Linked DNA regions of Homo sapiens: region 2 is linked to region 1. Evidence: fine-mapped expression QTL. A gene starts in region 1. The other region holds a variant in brackets. All regions are shown on one strand. Distances are from middle to middle.

Region 1 (2,919 bases):
AATTTCATTAAATTTTTTTTCCATGCCCCTTCTCTGGTGGTAGGATGATAGGGGATGAGTAAAATATCAAAGACAACTAAAAATTCCTAAACTAGATCCTCGGGTCCCAAAGAAGTGTTAACCATGGAGTGCCCCACCTTCTGAGGTTGGTGCTTCCTGGCACAGGCTCTTGGAACATTCTGGATTGTCTGACATTCCTTTTACTCGCTTTAGAACCTAAAGATGTTGCTGGGGGAAAAGGGAGCTAGGGAGAGGGAAGGGGAAGGATGTGGGATAAGGCATAAACTATGCTTGTGGGAAAAAAACAACCAGTAATTTCCTTGATGGGGTTTTTGCTTGACTTTAAAATGCAGTAAGCTTTTAGGAAGCTTGATGGAGCCTGTGTTTCTACCATTAGTGCTGCATTTGTTTGGCTTAAGATTTCATTAAGCTTCTTAAAATGGAGATACTTCTGGAACTCAAATGGCTACTGAGCAGGGAATGGCAAATCAGTGACACTGTAGGAAGTGGAGGGATTTTGGCAAACTAGAGAACACACCTTCCACAGGGGCAGCCACTGCTCTGCTGGGCCCGCTGTTCATCTGCAGGGACGTGCATCTTGGGATTATTTCCAAAGTCAGAACTCAGCATTTTTATGAGAAATGTCATGATTTTTAAGGTCTTAACAAGTTATCCCACATTAAAAAAATAATAATAAACCAGGCCGGGTGCAGTGGCTCACGCCTGTAATCCCAACATTTTGGGAGGCTGAGGTGGGTGGATCATGAGGTCAGGCGTTCGAGACCATTATGGCCAACATGGTGAAACACTGTCTCTACTTAAAATACAAAAATTAGCTGGGCATGGTGGCCGGCGCCTGTAATCCCAGCTACTAGGGAGGCTGAGGCAGGAGAATCGCTTGAACCTGGGAGGCGGAGGAGGTTGCAGTGAACTGAGATCGTACCCAGCCTGGGCAACAGTGCGAGGTTCCGTCTCAAAAAAAACCAAAAAACACAAAAACAAAAAACGACAGAGAAGGCCAAACAAAACACATCTGTGGGCTGGATGCCGCCATGCCCACCGGTTTGCGACCTTTGTGTTGGACTCTTCTGTTCACCAGACACCCTGCCCTGCGAGAATGTATCTCATCCTTTGCTGGAGCAGGTTTGCAGGCACAGTGGAGAGAGGAGAGAAGAAATGAAGGGACACTTATGCAGAACCATGAGTGGCCAGAGAGGAGGAGAAGGAGGGTGAGAGGAGCAAAGAAGCCATGACAACTTCATAATTCTGAGTGGACTGGGCAGTGGCCAGAAATTCTGGTGGTGGATATGCTGCCTTTCCAACAGGTGAATATGAAAGAATAAGTCAAACCCTGTTCAGGACGCTGTTAATTCCAAATGTGAACTTTTTGAGTCATTCTTTCCATGTGGAATTCAAAGGAGAATGTAAACAAATTTTCAGGAGGGACGTGCAATATCCCTGAAAGATAACAAAGTTCGTAACACTTATTTACATACAACATTCTCTAGTTATTGATTAAACAGATCTCTACAGACTTGCATGAGGCAACATTTCTTAGGCTTGTTTGCTACAATATCTTTAAAAATACTTGATTACACATCACTTTAGCTTATTTAGATGGACTTTTCACCAAGCTCTGAACTGGGATTTCATTTTGTTGCATTCATCCTGCTCACGAGACACAGGTAGGCAGCAAATGAGATTATCCCTCCAGTCCCCATGGATTGGAAATGTTCCCCCTTCTTTATGAGCTCACTGCAGTATCTCCTTCTCCCTTTCCCCAAAGGACAGCCTTTCCTGCCTCAGGGAAGAAGAGAGAGACAGACTACAGTGATGGAGACCCACTAGATGTGCACAAGAGGCTGCCATCCAGTGCTGGAGAGGACCGAGCCGTGATGCTGGGGTTTGCCATGATGGGCTTCTCAGTCCTAATGTTCTTCTTGCTCGGAACAACCATTCTAAAGCCTTTTATGCTCAGGTAAGAAACAGAGGAAGGAAATCTAGAGTTTCCAATTCAGATAAGATCCAGGCACAGCGGTAAAGGAGGAGAGGCTGGCTTTGGTTTCTCAATCTGTGACTCTCTGCCATGGTCTAGAAAAAGAAAAATACAATTCCTCTTCCGCTGTCAGTGCTGGGGGCAGCTGGGTGTGGAGGAAGAGGTGGCGAGAAGGTCAAAGATATTTCCCTGCACTGCCTCCTCCCATCTCATAATCTATATATACCTCCAAACACGTAATCCACAAATTATAGTTTCTTCATTTAGGTCATAAATCCTCCCCTTAAAATGTTGGTATTCCAAGAGAGAGTTAAACCTTGTATGTGAGCACAATAAAAGTTTTTTGAGTCTGAATTTTTTGAGTTTGACAGTGTCTACCTGGCACATAGTAGTTGCTCAATACATATTAGTTTCCTTCCTTTTAATTAGGTTCTTTATTCAATATATGTAGTGATACAGTTGACCTTTGAACAACATGGGTTTGAACTTCGGGAATCCACTTATAAATGGATTTTCTTCTGTGCCTGCCACCCCTGAGACAGTAAGATCAATCCCTCCTCTTTCTCCTCCTCCTCAGCCTACTCAACATGAAGAGGACAGGGAGAGGACCTTTATGATGATCCACTTCCATTTAGTAAATAGTAAACATGTTTTCTCTTCCTTATGATTTTTTTTCTTCAATTTTTGTTTTAAGTTCCGGGGTACATGTACAGAATGTGCAGGTTTGTTACAAAGGTAAACGTGTGCCATGGTGGTTTGCAGCACAGATCAACCCATCACCTGGGTATTAAGCCCAGCATGCATTAGCTATTCTTCCTGATGCTCTCCCTCCCCCTACTCCACTGAGAGGCCCCAGTGTGTGTTGCTCCCCTCTAGGTGTCCATGTGTTCTCATCATTCAGCTCCCACTTTTAAGTGAGAACA
Region 2 (2,919 bases), 20 kb before region 1:
CCACTTTGGCCTCCCAAGATGCTGGGATTACAGGTGTGAGTCACCACGCCCAGCCAGTAATTTCTCATTAAATATTTAATTCTTCATGTGAATCCTTGAGCATGGCTACATCAGTAATAGAATGAAGTGGTCAGCTGCTGACATGTATATGGACAGTGTGGATGTGACAGCTGGGAACAGGTTGTATTGGGTGTGTTATTGCCTTGGAAACTCAAGTACCATGAACAGCTTTGCTGATGGTGTTGTGGTTTCCTAAAATGGTGAAGAACTTTGGAAATGTCTGAATAAAACAAAGTACAAATTTCTCTCGATTTACATAGTAGATGCATTTTGGGGAAATTCAGTGGATATTGAAAAAGCACAAAAAATACTTCAACACAAGGTATTTTGTACTTCATGTAAAATGGCATTAGGTTTTAACTCAGATCATAATAAGTAGCCCTGTCATCTACATTAATTTGCAGTGGACATGAAATTAATTTCCATCACACTTCGGGCAATTCTTTGTTGTGTGGGACTGCCCTGCAAACTGTAGGACATCTGCCACATGTAGCTCTCCACTCCCTAAGTACCTGGCAGTGCCCTTCCAATCATGGTGACAACCAAGAAACACCCTCACCCACAGATTCCCAAATGCCCACCAGGAGGTGGCACCGTTCCTTTTGAGGCGCCACTAAATATTCCACTAAAGTGGAATATTTGAGTCAAATTGAACTCTACACTATGAGAGGCTCATTAAATGCTTGTAGAATAGAGTGAGCAGGAATCTTGCAGATCCTCACAGCCATCATTTTGAATTTTAATTCACAATGTGGAGAGACTATAGACATAAATAGAAGAGCTATACAGGGATAGCCTAATGGTTTAATCTTTCAAGCCTACCCCAATTTGTTGGAAGTTGCTGCCTTTAGTGGTGAATACAGAATAGTTTTTGCAGTAGTGTCCAGCTTATTCAATCATCCAGGAGCTATTTACTGAGCATCCATGCCAAGCACTATTCCAGGAGCTGGTGATACAGTTATAAATAAAAGACACAGATTCAGGCCTTCATGGAGCTAAAATTTCAAGCTCAGCAGGAGCTAACAAAGGTGTGCGCCATGGGGTCGGGAACATACTATCCATGTATTTGTCTTACCTGAAACAACAGAGTTATGTGAATTACTACTAATCCTCAAGGACTTTCCTGGGATTTTGTTTTATTTTTATTTTTTATTTTTGAGACAGGGCTTCACTCTGTCATCTAGGCTGGAGTGCAGTGGCGCTATCTTGCCTCACTGCAACCTCCACCTCCTGGGTTCAAGTGATTCTCGTGCCTCAGCCTCCCAAGTAGCTGGGACTACAGATGTGTGCCACCACACCTAGCTAATTTTTGTATTTTTAGTAGAGACAGGGTTTTGCCATGTTGGCCAGGCTGGTCTCAGACTCTTGGCCTCAAGTGATCCACCTGCCTCAGCCTCCCAAAATGTTGAGATTACAGGAGTGAGCCCCTGTACCTGGCCTGGGATTTTATTTTTAAAAATTAAGCACTGGGGCCAGGTGTGGTGGCTCACACCTGTAATCCCAGCACTTTGGGAGGCCGAGGC[G/A]GGCGAATCACAAAGTCAGGAGATCGAGACCATCCTGGCTAACACGGTGAAACCCTGTCTCTACTAAACAAAATACAAAAAATTAGCCGGGCGTGGTGGTTGGCGCCTGTAGTCCCAGCTACTCGGGAGGCTGAGGCAGGAGAATGACATGAACTCGGGAGGCAGAGCTTGCAGTGAGCCGAGATCTCGCCACTGCACTCCAGCCTGGGCGACAGAGTGAGACTCTGTCACACATACAAAAAAAATTAAGCACTGGATATAGATTTATTTTTCTATTCTTTGTCTTTTTCTCCTTAGAAAGTGAAACAGAAAAAAAACAAAATAAAATAACTTCTAATTGATTAAGAATTCAGGTTATTTGTGTTCTTATTAATAGGGGTTATTCTATAACATTTAGGAATGCATCAAAATTCATGATCAGATATCACTTGCCAAGAATGGGGGCTTCATCAGATCCGGAATAGAATTTATCTAAAAGTGATCAAGACATGCAGACTTATAAAAAGCTATGAACATCCTGTCTGTATAACAACTTGGCCAGCAACATTCCTGGCGCAAAGGGCTAAGGCTCCTTCAAGCCTTGAGAATAAGACACTTAAAAGAATAAGCCCAAGCTCCTCCTGAGCGAGGAGGCCGAATATTGTCAGTAGAAGCATGGACTTTTGGATGTGATCTGTTCTGGAGCCCCGGACCTAGCCCTTGTTACTTTGTGATTTTTGCACAAGTTCCTCGGACTCTCTGGTCTTCTGTGTCCTCATCTGCTGAATGCGCAAAAAGTTCCTACCTCCTCAAGTTCTGTGTCTGAAGGACATTATGTTCTCATAGCACTGAGCACAATCCCTGGCACATGGTTACTCAGGGCACCCAAGTTATCATTATGTGTCTAGGGAAAGTTGGGTTGGGCATGCAGTTGTTGAATTCTCTTCTTTCTGGGTGAGCGCTGCCTCTCAGCAGCTGATGGGGGAATCCTTGCATTATTGTCACTCCAGGAGAGAAGATACCTGCTTCCTGCAAGCAAACTTACGGTTTCATACACTTTATTGGATCTCAAAGGCAGATCTTTTTTTGTTTTGTTTTGCTTTCTTGAGATGGAGTTTCGCTCTCGTTGCCCAGGCTGGAGTGCAATGGCACGATCTGATCGTGGCTCACTGCAATCTCTGCCTCCTGGGTTCAAGTGATTCTCCTGCGTCAGCCTCCCAAGTATCTGGGATGACAGGCATGCGCCACTATGGCCAGCTAATTTTGTAGTTTTAGTAGAGATGGGTTTCACCATGTTGGTAAGGCTGGTCTCGAACTCCTGACTTCAGGAGATCTACCTGCGTCAGCCTCCTAAAGT

The links. PIP is the estimated chance that this variant, and not a neighbour inherited with it, causes the effect.
Region 2: its variant is the best candidate, but not a certain one, in a credible set for the expression of KCNMB3 in B cells (Fairfax 2012, PIP 0.63).

What each region holds. Positions count from the first base shown.
Region 1 is chr3:179,249,802-179,252,720 of GRCh38, reverse strand. KCNMB3 (potassium calcium-activated channel subfamily M regulatory beta subunit 3) reads left to right here and starts at 1,607. Exons shown (of 3, transcript NM_171830.2): 1 at 1,607-1,978. The coding sequence starts at 1,731.
Region 2 is chr3:179,270,298-179,273,216 of GRCh38, reverse strand. No RefSeq gene overlaps it. Among named protein-coding and RNA genes, the nearest start is that of KCNMB3, 21 kb to the right of the region's middle. The variant G/A (reference allele first, on the strand shown) is at 1,584.